Linked DNA regions of Homo sapiens: region 1 is linked to region 2. The links come from fine-mapping of genetic effects on gene expression. A gene starts in region 2. The other region holds a variant in brackets. All regions are shown on one strand. Distances are from middle to middle. Region 1 has its middle 40 kb from the start of LINC02032. Region 2 holds the start of LINC02032 (long intergenic non-protein coding RNA 2032).

Region 1 (8,359 bases), 40 kb before region 2:
CAGGTTTGCAAATGCATTCTCAAATGATACTTTTAATGAGTTTTTGCTTCTGGGATTATATGCAATTTATTTTTCTGTTTTCAGTATAGATACTTTTCAAAGTTTTAATGCTTTATTTTGTTTTTGCATTTTCAAATTATTTTTCTGTTTCTGCATTTATCTTTTTTGAAAAAATACATATTCCCAACATTTTGTCATTGTAACATCTTTATGAGGTAGATATTTTGTTCTCTCTGCTTTGAAGATGGAGAGACTGAAGCACCATGACATTTAAGAAATTTACATGCACTTACACAGCAGTGAAGGATCCAGCCAGAATTCTATCTCATGCTCCTTTGTAGCAGAGGACCAACTTATTACCCACTGCATTGTACTGCCTCTGGCACTTCATTAGCAAAGTAACTATTTACCCAATGCACTACGAAAGATCTTCAGAAATAAATCTTGTAAATTTTTAAATAAAAATAATCATGGTAGCCCAATTACTCTTTTACATAATTATTCACCATAACTGTAGTGGAAGTTTGACTATCTTCTCCCTGCTCAGCATCCAAATCCCAACCCCTGCCTCATTCTATTAGACCTTAATTAATCCGTTTTGTAGTCAGTAGAGAAAGTGTTCTGACTCCTACTATGGAAAAAGAATGAGCCAGATTCTTCCACTTCCTAGTATAGCACAACTGGTAGAATGAGAGGTCACTTTGACCTTAGCAGGTCGAATAATAAGGTGCTTTCAGGATTCAGAGGCAGTTTGAGGTTAGAGTCACTGTAGAAGCCTCAGAGACACATGGACTAGATACTCCCTTGAATGGGTCTTGCTGCCCATTCATTCAAGCAAACTTGAGCTAATTTTTTTCTTTGTCATAGAGTTTTATTTCTTTCATTTTACTTTTTAAAAAATTGTGTAATTAAATAATGTATGCACACAATGGAAAAAATCAAATAGATCTTCAAGGATTATCAAGAAAAACAGTACTCCCTTGTTTCACCCACTTCCCTACCTCATTTGAGGTGATGCTTTTCAAAAGGCAGTTGGTTTCAACATTTTAGCTGTTTCTCTTGGGACTTTTACTCATATTTCTAAATAGCATACTTATACCCTCATTTTTTGAATTTTTGTTTTCATACATTAACTCTTGTCTTCCTATTACAAAAGTTGCCTTAAAAATGTTGCTACCTCCCACCTACATGCACCAACATCCTTGCCAACACGACCATATTTTGCTCCCCACAACACATGTATTCACACATATATACAAATCTTTTTTTCATCTTCTCAATATATAAATGTAATCTAATTTTATATTAAACCAATACTTTGTGGTTAAATATTACATTGACTATGTAAACATCACAACACTATCCTTCATTTCTTACACAATTTTTGGTCTTTCCTGGATATAATTGTTTTTCTTTCCATTTGCTTAATTTTCTATGAAATTATAACTAATTTATTCACAAACCCTCCTCTGATATGAAATCTCCTCTCTATACATTTAATCATACTTCTAATGAGTCACTATCATATTTTCTTTGAATACAGATTTCCTGGACATGTAAGTCCCCCTGATCCAATGTGAAGTGGTTGCCCTCTGTATTAAATGGCTGTTCAATGGCATACCCCATATGGTTTTCCAAGCTTTTCTTCTGATTTTTTCTTGAGTTGGAGATCCGTTTTCTATCTCCTTTGTCTTCTCACTTCTTGGTTGATTCTCTCCAGGACATTATCAAAAAAAAAGGAAGTTGAGAAGCTACTATGTTGACTATCTGAAAGTGTTTTCATCATCGTCATCATCATCATCATCATCATCACTTGTTTAAAAGTTTGAGTATATACATTTCCATATTCCTTAGAATTTGGAGGGCTTTAAATTATGCTTTTCGAAAGTTTGATGCCATTCTAATTTCTCTTTGCATGAGATCTGATTGTTCCTATTCAAAAAATTTTAACTCTTTATTCTGTTTTTGGTGTTCTAAAGTTTAATAATTTGCCTTGCTGGGGAGCTTTTCAAATCCATTTCGATGATGTCTTTTCAGAGGCTGTCAGGTTGGAAACTTGTGTTTAGATAAGGGAAGTTTTCTTGTATTATTTCTTAAATATTTTTCTCTTTTTATTTTTTCTTTTTGTCTTACCTGGTTGCTTACTATTCAGATGTTTATACTTTATCAACTGATCCTGTAATATTCTTCTATTTTCTGCTTAGTTTTTTTTATTTGTAGAAGGTTTTCTCAAATTTATCTTCTAAACTTTCTATAGGAAGTTTTTTTTTCCGCTATCATAGTTTTATTTAATAAGAGCTTTTGTTTGGCTCTTTTAATATTTTATGAAGACATCTTTGTTGAAAATCAATTGACTGTAAATTTATGGATTTATTTTTGGGCTCTCTGTTCTGTTCTATTGGTCTATGTGTCTGTTTCTATGCCAGAATCATACTGTTTTGATTACTGTAGGCCTACATTAGATTTTAAAATTAGGTAATGTGATGGCTCTGGCTTTGTTCTTTTTGCTCAAGATTGCTTTCATTATTTGGGTTTTTTGTAGCTCCATATGAATTTTAGGATTGCTTATTCTATTTTGGTAAAAAATGACATATGTATTTTGATGAGATTGCATTGAATCTGTAGATTGTTTTGGATGGTGTGGACATTATAATAATATTAATTATTCCAATTTATGTTACAGAATATCTTCCCATTTATTTGTGTTTTCTTCAATTTTTTCATCATTGTGTTATGGTTTTCTATGCACAGGTATTTTAACTCCTTGATTTCCTCCTATTTTATTTTTTGTGTTGCTAAAAAATATGAAGAATGAATAAGATGTACTATTTGATAGCACAGTAGGGTGACTATAGTCAATAATAATTGTATATTTTAAAATAACTTTAAGAATATAGTCAGATTATTTGTAACTCAAAACATAAATGCTTGAGGGGATGAATACCCATTCTCCATGGTGTGCTTATTTCACATTGCATGTCTGTATCAAAACATCTCATGTACCCCATAAATATATATATATATATATAACATGTACACACAAAATTTTTAAAAAACAATAATTTTTAAAAAAACATGGGATTGTTTTCTCAGTTTCTTTTTTGGATTTTTTTTGTTAGTGTATAGAAATGCTATGGATTTTTCTATGTTGATTTTGATTTCTGCAATTTTACTGAATTTATTTGTTATATCCAAGAGTTTTTTTGGCAGAGTTTTAGAGTTTTCTCTATATAAGATCGTGTTGTGAGCAAACAGCAGTAATGTTACTTTTTCCTTTCCTATTTGGATGCCTTTTATTTTATTTTGCCTAATTTCTAAATTAAAATTTA[G/A]TAATTACTTACAAATTAAAATTTGAAATTAATTACAAATTAAAATTTGCCTAATTACTAAAATAATTTTTTTTTTGCCTAAGTGTTCTTGTTCAAAAAATTTTAACTCTTCGTTCTGTTTTTGGTGTTCTAAAATTTAATAATTTGCCTTGGTGAGGAGCTTTTCAAATCCATTTTGATGAGGTCTTCTTGAGCCTGACAACTTGGAAACTTGTATTTGGACTTCTAGTACTATGTTGAAAAGAAGTGGCAAAAGTGAGCATCCTTGTTTTGTTTCTTATCTTACGGGAAAAAAGCTTTCCACTTTTCATCATTAAGTTTGATGTTAGCTATAGGCTCATCATACATGACCTTTGTTTTGTTAAGAGATTTTATTGTTAAATAATGTTGAATTTTGTTGAATGTAGTGTCTGCATCTACTGAAATGATCATATGACTTTTATTCTTCATTCTGCTCTTGTGGTGTATTGCAATTGTTGATTTATATATATTGAATCATCCTTGCATCCAAGGGATAGATCCTTCTTAATCATGATGAATGATCCTTTCAATGTGCTGTTGAATTCAGTTTGCTAATATTATGTTGAAGATTTTTTTAGTTTATATTTATCAGGGGTATTGGCTTGTAATTATCTTTTCTTGTAGTGTCTTTGTCTGGCTTTGGTATCAGGGTAATAGTGGCTTCATATAATAAGTTTAGAAGTTTTCCCATCTCTTCAATTTTTTTGCAAGAGTTTGAGAAGAATTCTTTTTTATTGTTTAGTAGAATTCAGCTTTCTTCTTTTTGTGAGATAGGCATGTATTGCTGTAAACTTCCTTCTTAGAACTGCTTTTCCTGTATCTTGTTTTGGTATGTTATGTTTCTATTTTTGTTTTTCTCAAAAGACAGTTTTAAGCTTTCTCTTTTAATTTCATCTTTTGCCTATTGATTATTTAGAAGCATGTTGTTTAATTTTCTCATTTTTATAATTTTTTTGAGGTCCCTTCTATTATTGATTTCTTGTTTCATTCTATTTAGTGTGGTTGGGAAAGATACTTGACATGATTTCAACGTACTTAAATTTGTGAGGACTTGTTTTGTGGCCTGCGTTGTCTATCCTGGAGAATGTTACATGTGTGCTTGAGAAGAATGTGTAGTTTTTTGCTGTTTGGTATCATGTTTTATACATGTTTGAGAGGTCCATTTATTCCCATTGCAGTTAAAGAACAATGGTTCCTTATCAATTTTATTGATTTTCTTTCTAAACAATCTGTCCGCTGTTGAAAGTGGGGTATTGAGGTCCCCTATTATTATTGTATTTCATTCTATCTCTCTTCAGATGTATTGATATGTGCTTTATATATTTAGGTATTCTGATGTTAGGTACATATGTGTTTATAATTGTTGTATCTTCTTGACAAATTGTTTCCACATCATTATATAACCTTCTTTGTCTCATCTTACAGTTTTTGACTTGGTAGCATTTTTAGAGTTTTCTCTATTTCTTATTTTCATTTTCTCTCTGTAAGATTTATTTCTCTATATAAATTATATTTTGTCTGGAATATGTATAGCTACCCCTTCTCTCTTTTGATTCCATTTGCATAGAATATCTTCTTTCCTCTTATCATTTTCATATGTGTTTTTAAAGACAAAGTGAGTTTCTCATAGGCAGCATATATTGGGTGCCTTCAGCCATTCTGTGACTTTTGATAGAAGGATTTAATACATTTACATTCAAGGTACTTATTGATAGATAAAGACTTACTACTGCCACTTTGTTCATTGTTTTCCAGTTGTTTTGTGGATTTAGTTTCTTTCCTCCTCTCTTGTCTTCCTTTTTGATTAGATGATTTTCTCTAGTGGTATGCATTAATTCCTCATTTTTTATCTTTTACATATCTACTATAAGTTTTTGCCTTGTGGTTACCATGAGGCTTACATAAAAATATCTTATATTTGTAACAGGCTATTTTAAGTTGATAAAAAATTTACCTTTGCACAAAAAACACTATAGACTTTTACTCTACATACATCACAATTTCATGTTTTTGATGTCACAATATACTTTTTTATATTGTATACCATTAACAAGTGAATATGGCTATATTATTTTAAGAGTTTTGTCTTTTAACCTTCATACAAAAGATATAGTGATTTACATACTATTATTACAATTTTAGAGTATTCTGAATTTGATTGTGTACTTACTTTTGCCAGTGACTTTTATACTTTCATATGTGTTCATGTTACTAACTGTCATCATTTTCTCTCAGCTTGAAGAACTCTCTTTAGCATTTCTTGTAAGATAGGTCTGGTGGTCCCACAGCATTCTTTTGTGTGGGGGAAAGTCTTTATTACTCCTTCAGTTTTGAAGAACAGCTTTGCCAAGTATTCCTGGTATCCAAGTGGTTTTGTTTTTGTTTTGTTTTTTTCCTTTAGCCCTTCGAACACATGATCCCACTCTCTTCTGGTGTATAAAGTTTCTGCTGAGAATTCTGTTGCGAGCCTTGGAATTCCCTAAATATGATTTGCTTTTTTTCTCTTGCTAATTCCAAGATCTTTGCTTTATCCTTGATATTTGAAACTTTGGTTATAATATGTCTTGGTATCATCTTGTTTGGATTAAATCTTATTTGACCTTCCTGTACCTAAATATTTCCCTAGATTAGAAAGTTTTCTGCTATTATTCTTTTAAGTAAGCTTCCTACCCTTTTGTCTCTCTTCTTCTTCATCTCTTATTACTAGAATATTTGCTCTGTTGATGCTGTCCCATAAATCCTGTAAGTTTTCTTTATTCTTTTGTATTATTTTTTCTCCTCTCACTGTATATTTTCAAATAACTTGCCCTCAAGTCCAGAAATTCTTTCCTCTGATTTATTAATTCTTCTGTTGATGCTCTCTATTGCATTTTTAAATTCCATTTATTTTATTTTTCTGTTCCAGAATTTCTGTTTGATGTTTATAAAACAATTTCAATTTATTTGTTAATTTTTCAGGTTGGGTTTTTATTTTTTTAATTTTATTAAATTGTTTATTTGTATTTTCTTGAAGTTCATTGAGCTCCTTTGAACAATTATTTGGAATTCTTAGTTGGTTCACTTACCTCCATTTCTGTGGGGTCAGCTATTGGAAGATTATGGTGTTCTTCTGATGGTAATTATCTCCTTGGTTTTTCATGTTTCTTGTTGCCTTATGTTGATGTCTGCACATTTGGTAGAGTACTCTTCTCTTGTAGACTTTAATGACTAGTTTTTTTGTGGAAATATCCTTGTCTCTGGGTGGAGGATGAGCATACTTGCTGGATAAGGTACAGCAGTTCTGATACCACTGAGAGTGCCAGCTGTGTAGTCCCTGTGAAGCTTCGTCAGTATTAATAAAGATTGCAGAGATCCTCAGCAGCTAACATTGTCTATGGTGGCAGTGACACTTTCTCTTCTATCCTTTCTAAAATTAATGGATATGTTGATCATTTCTAATTTAGTGTTATTATAAACACTGCTGTTATAAATATACCTGCCTGTGTTTTTTTGTGTGCATATGTGCATAGGCACTTGTTTCTGCTGATTATATACCTACAAGTGAAATGGCTGAGTTATAGGTTAGGTATGTGCTTAAATTTTAAGATTGTATTAATTTACATTCTAACCATTAATGTATGAAATTTCCAGTGTGTCACATCCTCATAACATTTGGTATCATCATATTTTATCTTAGCTATTCTGATAGTTTATTGTGGCTTTTGCCTAGTTTTCACATATATTGATTCTTCAGCATCTCTAATTTAAAAGATACATTAAAAGCTATTTGTGGCACCCACATATTTTTTTGAAGTAAACAAAAAGCACTTGCCCATATAATTTTTCAATCTATAGAAGAGTTTTCTCCTCTTTTCTTGAAAAACCAAGGATTCTGTGAAGCTGTTTCAGGACAAGAGAAAAAGAAGAAAAAAAGAAAAAAGAGCTGGATCTGACCCCTCAGCCCTTCCTCAATCAGATGAGCTCTGGTTGTATATTGACTTTCTAAAATACAATCTTGCAGAAAAAGTTTCTCTGCTAAAAAATTTTAAAGCTACACAACCATTCTTCAAAGAATTAATGGCAATGAAACTGAAGAAATATACATTTTCCTTGACCCATGGCCTTTTTGCGGAGGCTATTTGCAATCCTATGAGTTCATGGCTATTATTTTCACTGGCATCTGATCTTGCAAGGGATGGGGGCAGCCAGAAGGGTAAGACAAAGCCTGATAAAGACTCAATAACCAGCATCTTTAGAAACCTTACTTTTACCCAACAGTCACCTAGCCACACAAACATACTTCACCACAATTTTTAAGTGTGGCTGAACCTAATCAAAAGTAGTAGTAGTATCATATTCAAGCATGACTTCATATACCGCTAAGAGCTCTAATAGGGTAAATATAAATAAAGGTGTCCAAAATCATATTGGGCCAGCTAATCAACGTTTCAATCTGCTTTCTTCAACATAAGTATATACTGCTACTTCAGGAGGTAATCAAGAGGATTAAAGGAGATGATGCATATAAAGGACCCCAAATATAATTTGTTCAAAAAATGTTGTGATTTATTCTATTATGACCACGATTATCCGGCAGAGTGACTACATATACTGGTCTTTGATCTATCTGATTCCCAGTCCCAGTGATCTATATCCTATGGGACATCAAAAGCTTCATATATCTTTTCCCTATTTTTACTAGTTCCTCAAAAGTGTCAGTCCTCTAGTTCCTAATCATCTACAACACCGTTTTCTCCCAGATGCTGTATTTACCCTCAAAGTAAAGTATCCCTCCTTCTCCCCAAGTCATAAATCCTTCCATGATACCCTCTGTAAATATTGTATCACATTTAGCAAATTTTTTATTATCTTCAATGCCTTATAGAAATATTCTCTTCACTTTCTTGGCTTAACTGAACCTTTGTGACACCATTTTTTTTTTCTAGCCCTCTCAAGTGATGACTTTACCTTATGTACTTGGGGAGTGGGAAGAGAGATTAATGAACTCCTTAATCTCTTTTGTGGGTTCA
Region 2 (8,359 bases):
ATGAGGACTTGATGTCAGGGAGGCTCACCTTTGAATGTATTTCTTGTTCAAGTTTATATTGTAGCATGCAATTTTCGTAAATAAAATGAAGGAGCAATGTAAAGAACCATGGTTAAATCATAGTGTTTCACAGATATCGCTGATAACTTGGTTAATGCACTGTTGATGTGCACGTGGTACAATTTTCATATTTTAATCTTAAGTAGAACATGAAATGACAATTATGAAAAGACAAAATAGATACCACCAACAGCTGTAATTGCTATCTAGGCTGCTCAAAGATGGGCAAAAGACACAGTAAATCAATATTAAGTTCTCCAGAAATGCAGGTATCACAAGGACATCATATAACATCATTATAAGCAAATTCTTATACAATTTGGACAGTTGTAAAGAACACAGGATTAACACAGAGAATGAGAGGATAACTTGTCCTCTGTAACTTCAGTTGCTATCTTATGGAAAAAATAAATCTCTGGGACTCATGACTATGTAACATTTAGTTAAGGCTGTAAACCTTGTTGGCTTTAATAAATGAGTACGGTTTCTTTTTTCACAATTTAATATGTAAAGATCATAAAGGGTTAAATGGTTCTGCCATGTGTAATTATAATAAGTTGAAATTTAACAGTCTTAATACACTGACTTACATGAAATGCTTTTGTATATAATAGTATATCCTAGGCCTACATTTTGTGGTGTTACAGAATACCTAATTAAACTTGTGGGTTAATAAACCAACTAAACTTAAAAAAAAACTATTAAAGATTAAAGGCATGGTATAAATATAATAAAATAATGAAAATTGAAACTGCAAACCTTCGGGATTAGAAATGAAATGGGAAAAAGGCAACTAGATAAGGAAATAAACAAGAGCTTCAAGGAAAAGATATAACAAATGCAACAAATATGTAAAAGTAGTTTGGTCATAAAATTAAACATTTGCATTTCAGGTTCTAGTTTTAGAGTGTAATCATTTAAATGGCCTAGAGAAAGTAGTTCTGATTTTATTCACATCTTTCTGGGGCTGTTAGTTTCCCTTGTGGGAAATGAAACAACACATAGCCCAAAAACTTTTCATAAATTCTTATTGATTTTTTGCACATATTCATAAGTTATTTATGTATTTATAAATATTGGAGAAATATTTCACATTTCAATTGAGCATTTTAAATTTTTAAATGAAATAAAATGTTTAGAATCTATTTATTCCCTTATCTTCTTCCTCATTCCCATAATTGAGCCTCATTGAATTGAATTCACAGGCTCTTCCACCATTACATAGAGAAGCAATATAAAAGAAACACTTTTCATCATTATTATCTAGTTTACATAAAAATGCTGTAAAAATGGAACTAAATTTGAATCAATTTGAGAATTATTTGGTATCAGAAAATAATCTATTCGTCAAAAGGTTATCAATTAGAATCAAATTTCTTTGTGTGTGTGGTAATGACAAACAAGAAAAATAAACAAAAACATATCAATTGTTTACCATGTGGTTTTGCACTTCCACAAAATTTTTATCTCTTTTGAACATTGTATTCATGTTGGCATTCGATGATAAACATACCTAAGTTACTTTGCTATTTATATAAATTAAAAAATTAAACGTCCGTGTAATATATTTTATGCACATGCGAAACATGTTTATAAGTAATCAAGTGCATGTTATTATGCATATTATGGCATATACTGCTCCATATGCCTTATCTCACATAACATGCACAAATAAGCAACTATTAGGTTGGTGCAAAAGTAATTGCGATTTTGGCAATTAAAAGTAATGGCAAAAAGTGCAATTACTTTTGCACCAATATAATAGATTTTATGACCTTGAAATACACATTTTTTTACTCACTAAATGCCACTGAAATTTTAATTTTATTCCTGCAAAGCATGAGTTTTAATAATAAATCCACTGTGTACATAAATGGGATTGTTATTCCAAATGCTCTCCATTAAACTGTACAATAGAATTGACATTATAAAATAAAATATAAAACAATTTCTCTTTGGGTACATTATATTGCTGTTGACACTTAAAACTGCATTACTTTCTGTTCTTGGTATCAGAGCAGAATATTTAAAATGAAAACTACTTTTCTTACCCTTTTACTGAAGACTCAAAAACAGAAGGCTATTACTTTCTGCAGTAATAATGATCTTCAAATTCTCTACATAAGAATGAATTAAAACCTTTACATTAACCACAAGGTGTCTCCAATCTGTAATTCTCTAGATTTTCCCTCCCCTTCATCCTCATTTTTTGGTGCAGAGTGAATATATACAATCAGATTGCCACATTTGGAAACTTCAAGAAGATTCATTCAGATGTAAATTGAAAGTGTATATTTTAGAAGGGACTTTATCAAACTGAAATATATATAATATACTATACATAAGTAACGTTATATATGTCATAGTTATATCTATTATATAATGATATATATATATCACATGCTTATAGTATAGCACATGTTTAATAAGAATTTATCAGTTATTTTATGAGTATATATTTTGGAAGTTGGCCTCTTAAAAATAGTGACACAACACCAGAAAAGAAAAAGAAAAAAAGTTTAACATCAAAGCATAGCTTGTTTTAGTTTATTCATAATCAATATTTAATTTTTGAATAATCCTATCAGCCAGCTATAACCAATTACTCCAAGAAAATAAAAATTTCATAGTGGACTATGCACATCAAATAGCCACAAATACAACTAAAATCTTGTTTTTTACCGACCAAAACTATTAGTGAGAAGTAATTACTAAAGCCAATCTCATTATGAAATATGAGTATATAACTGAATATGTAACTAAATATGAATATATAGAATAAATCTGATTTAAAAGAATTCCAACTACAGAAAGTCTAATCCAAATCCATGTATGGCTTATCTCTCTCTTTACCCAGAAAGATAACGTGTATGTGTGTGTGTGTGTGTGTGTGTGTGTGTGTACGTGTGTGTACGTGTGTGTTTAATGGGATGCTGTTTATCCCACTATATCTTACCACTCTGTCTCTTTGGATAACAATCACAGGACCCAGATGCTAAGGGTAAGTGATATTTTCCCACAAGCGGCTTCTGGCTCCTTGGCAGACGTAATAGGCAGTTGTGTTGGCAGTCGCAGTGCTGCCTCTGGCTCTCTTGTGTGGCTTTGCTGTTGAGAGGATGCTTGGCCTGCCCTGTCCTCCTGGATACCATTTCCCTCTGACAGCCCTTGGGTTTTGTGAGGCTTTATTCTGTACAAATCCCTTGTGCAGTCTCTGGATGAACTCTCTAAAGGCAAAATAGAGCCTTTCTTTCTGGTTGTGTTTAATGATCAGCTGAATTGCAGGTCCAGGTACTCAGGAAAACCAAAACCAAAACCAAAACCAAAACTTTTCCAATTTTTTCTGGCTACTTTGTTTTAATTTCTGATCTTGTTTTCACCCTGAGCACATTGTATCCCAACTTAATTGCCAGCAAGTTGGCCAAATGATTTTGTATAAATGTTGTGCTTTCAGATTTTTATGTTGTAATTTACATGATTTTTAAAAGTCCTTTGTTTTCCCATATTTACCATCATAAACAAATTTGAAGATTTATTTTAGATCATAAATAACAACATAGAATATCTCCTGCAAAAAATGTAAGAAAGGAATTTCATGATTTTACCAAGTGTGATTGGCTGATAAGCTATTTAATGAAATAAAAGTAGTATGCTTCTGAAATTGATAGAGAAGTAATACTTCATTCCTTGCATGCTTGTAATTTGGATGACATTTTGAAGCATGTGCTCAAGTTGTACAAACAAAAGCACACAGCAGAGCCAAACATGGTTTCAAAGACACCAATATAGCTAACTGTCTGCTGAGTAATTTGTGACATTTTCACACATTTCCTTTCAGTGATATCACAAAAGTAGTCACAAGTGTGTATCATGGATTAAATGATTCTCTGCCTTACTATATACCTGACCACAATCCCCAAGGCAAAACAATATTTTGGGATACTGATAGCTGTATTTTCTTTGTAAGCTGAAATATTAACAAAGACCTAGAGTTTCCTAAAAGAAATATTAGGAGCATTTTGATAAAAAGGCTCATTCCAATTAAACCTGGGTTGAAATGTATTTCTTTCCAGTCTGCCATTTTTATCTCATATGACTGTAAAATTCTAAAATTATTGATGCTGTGTTTTATAGTTTAACAAGTGAATTACTTAGCAGTCAAAAAAAGACTATACAAGTTTTATATGGGTCTTCAGATAATTATCTAAAACAGTTTCTTATTAAATAAGACTTCATGTGCTTTATGAAAAACTGGAATGTGTAGTGTCATAATATTATAAATTAAGAGCAAATGTAATTTAAAGAGGAGCTTCACTGAAGCTTCTAGGAGAAATAAAGATCATACCTCTTCTTGACAGCTGTGATTCTGTTTTTACAGACGTTGTTAATGTTGAACCCTCTCTGATGCAGAGTATGTTCTTACTGTAGCCAATGTTCTGCAAACCATGTGCTTCTAGCTCAGTGGAGAAATTAACCACATTCTAATGTGACTTCAATGTTCTATGACATGTGATAAATCCGTGTTCTGAAAGAGCATTTCTGGTTAAATTAGCATAAATCCTCAAAGATTATTGACAATTGGGTTGCTATCAAGCATATATTCTTCTTTTTTTCCTGGATTGACTTTGCTCTTTCTTAAATATAGAACATTTAATAAACATTTGTGGAAACAAAAAAATGTTAAGTAATTTTTTTACAGCATTTTGACCTTTTCATCTTCCAGTTCTAACTGGGAAATGTGGCATTTTCAGAAAAACTATTGCTAAAGCTTGGCTTCTCATTTTCTACAATATATAAAAACTCAAAAGATTGTAATTACATATTCTCTACACTATTTGGTGTTAAGTTTTACTATACTCCTCTGCTAGTAAGTTTTTTTTCTTTTTCCTTATTAAATACCTGCATTATTCTGTTTGGGTTTTCCCCCTCACTAATTAGTTTTTGGTAATGTAGAGTTGTATTTTAAAGACCTGAAAACAAATCGTAAATAAGGTACATTTATTAACAACAGAGTCCCTGGTTAAGATTCTCTAAAACAGCAGAAAGAAAGCTAAAACTATTTTTTGTTCTCTTTTTACCAGTAGGTGTCACTACTGGGACTAAAAGGTAGTGATCTCAAGCCATCTAACAGAATTTAATTTTAAGATCAAGAATTACCTGTATGATCCAAAGGTAATTTACTGAGCCATGCTAACCAAACCACCCTGTGAAAAGTTACTTGGTCAAATTTATCTCAAAATCTCAACTAAACATTTGAAATACACATTTGAAATGTGAAATGACCCTACTAACAATATGCTGGCAAGGGACCCTGAGATATCAGATATTACAGCAAAAAATAACTCATGGAATTTTTGAAAGATATAAGAGAATAAATGTAATTTGAATAGTATTTCGGTATGATCAGATTTCAAAAATATTGGATATAAAAATGTTGTAAAACAAGAGGATTAGGGTTTTGCCTTTTGAAAAGTTTCAAGATTGCATGTAGTGTTACCATAATATTCCACACTTGAACAAAGACATTTATGGAGTCAGGTTTTCTTTTTTCAAAGAGAAAAGTCCCTGAGCTTCCTTATATAGAGACATCATAAGTATCTTCATCCTAGGAAATATTAAATAACTTTCAACTTCTCGTGGAAAAATTAAATCTTTACTTTTTTTCCCCCAAAAGTGACTTCACAAAGCAGTGAAGCTATTTTCAGCCTAATTTCATGAAAATATAGTGCAATGATATTTTCAGGTTAAATATCACTTGAGGGGACTATATTTTGTTCACATTTCCTAGGAAATCTTAGCAGTAAACTTTCGCTTTTTGATTAATCAAAATATTTCATGGGCACTTTAGTTTCATCTAAAGATTTTATTTCAGTTTTTAGTTGGTTGTGGGAGATATATGGATATGTGTGTGAACAGTGTGCCTCCCCAACAAACAATGTCAAGAAATACAATTTCATATCAAAATAGTTTTAAATCTTAAACTTGAATGGGAGCGTTATGTACAAAGAAAAAAAAGATTACCTGTTATTTCTTTGTTGAATAATCTTAAAACATCTCTTTGAGTCCAAGCAGCTCATACATCAGAGCTTGAGGGTCCTTTTATTACCTGAGAATAAGCAGTTAGATATGACAGCTTCAAAAGTGTGAATGCCATTATTCAATGTTTTATACAGTATATTCATTGGTCATCCATCTGGTGTGCAACTTTCCAATAAAAAAAAGCCGAAAGTCATTCTCCTGCTTGTTTTTCCAGGGCAGTTCCGCAAGGACAACTGCACAGAGACAGATTCGCCAGTAGAGGCCTCTCTAGATTTGCCTTCTGATTACAAACTCAGAATGTGCCTTGAATCTGCTGCAGTTAACACAACTACTTGAAAAGATTCTTGTTGCATAGGGAAAAAGATCACTCTTTAATGCCCTTTTAAGTTCCATGATGTTGATTAATGTTGCCCTTTACATTAATGATGTTTCAAGTAAAAGAAAACAAATTTAAAATGGATAAATTCTATTGAGGATGCATTAATTAGACAGAGACTTTGCCATATGCTGTGGCTGGAGGGCTTGCTGGCCTTTCTCTTGTAGTTACCTGTGTAAAATCCACCCTATCCTCTACATGAATGCCCAAGCTGAATAGCCATTTGAATGAAGGCTTTAGTTTGATTCGCCATACAAGGGGTACTGTGTCACTGTGTTTTCTTTCTAGGAGTCACTAAGTGATTTCTATATCTGTTGTCATGGTGATATAGCAAAGCAGGGGAAAATGGGGGCAACTTCAGGCTTTCTCCTCACCCTCTGGACTAAGATGTTGTTAGCAAGCCTATAAAACATTGGGCTTTATCTGGGCCTTCTTTTTGTTCTCTGATTGTCAATAAAACTCATTTTAAGGGTAACAAGGACATCTAAATGTCATCTGTCACAGTGTTAGAGAGATTAAGTTTGTTTAGGGACTTGTGCTGGACAAAGGCCACTATTTGTTTCGCAGATACAAAGCAGTGTTGGCTATCACCACTCTTGATTTAGAAGGAGGCCCAGAGACCATCGAGGAAATATCATCTCAGTTGCAGGTGTCTTGACATGACAGCATTAAAAAGACAGAAAAATAGTTATGGTTTTGAATGGGAATCTGCAGTTCTGTTTCTCACACCCCTTTGTAGATTTCTCAAACCTAAAGTCTTCTCCTAGACTAGATGGAAGAATTTTGAGTTCAATTTCTGAGGGCTTCAGGCCTGTGTAAAAACATGACATACGCATGATGGTCTCTGAATGAATGATAAAAGAGAGAAAAGAGGTTTTGCAAGGAAAATCCAACAATAATGTATACTGCATTAATTCAACATTTGCTCAATAATGAGGCTAAATGGAACGTACAGATTAATGAAGACATTGGTGTTATTAAAATCAAATCCTGTGGTTCGTATGCTTTTTTTTTAATAATGAACATTGTGGCTATTGGAGAGGAAGAACAGGATTTTTTCTATTAATTTGGCACACATCCCAGATCTCATTCAACCAGAACCTATCCCCTGCAAAATGCAGCCCATGGCCTTTATGTGCCTTATTCTTTCTATTTTATATGTGTTAATTTGAGTGAAAAAATATTTTCTCTCTATAAAAATATTTCTAAAGTGAATCTGGAGCCTAAGTAATAATTCAATAACATTAAACTAGGATGCTTTTTCTAACATAAAGAGGGATTGGAAATATACAAAATTACATGCATATAATGTGGTGCTCACATCACATCTGCCTGCACTATGTAAATTGATGCAGCTTTCTTGGGACTTCTAGAATCTGAGTACATCAATGCATCTCAAATACTATATTATAGAAAATATTCATGGTAGCGAGGGCCACTATGTTGAAACATAGATGAACTATTATAAATGTTGAGCAATGGGAGAATCTTTGTTTACCTTTTATTATGTCTCTATAATTTGGATATTTATGAAATATGATGAAAACAGAGTAGTATGGTTCATTTTACTATATCCCTGTGGGCACAACCCCACATATAACACACTTATGTGTACAACAAACACATCACCTGGACCAGAGTTGACATTAGGAATGACAATGATAAACTCCCTCATGATCACGACTCTGTGGAGAAAGAAAATATACACTTATATACGCTTATATAGTAAACTTGAGTGTTCTTAATTCAAGCTCTCTCAAAGCAACTTGAAAATCTGATTTTAATCGTGCTGAAAGAGATCTGGGTGTACAGCCATAAATGCTTTATATATCAACTATTGGATGGATTCCATATTAGTTGTAAATTTGGTAGTTAATGATGAAGAAG

What was found.
Region 1: its variant is fine-mapped to the expression of LINC02032 in cerebellar hemisphere (GTEx, PIP 0.93).

The regions. Positions count from the first base shown.
Region 1 is chr3:148,114,412-148,122,770 of GRCh38, reverse strand. No RefSeq gene overlaps it. Among named protein-coding and RNA genes, the nearest start is that of LINC02032, 40 kb to the right of the region's middle. The variant G/A (reference allele first, on the strand shown) is at 3,330.
Region 2 is chr3:148,074,301-148,082,659 of GRCh38, reverse strand. It overlaps LINC02032 (long intergenic non-protein coding RNA 2032), which reads right to left and starts at 4,501. Exons shown (of 2, transcript NR_134937.1): 1 at 4,403-4,501.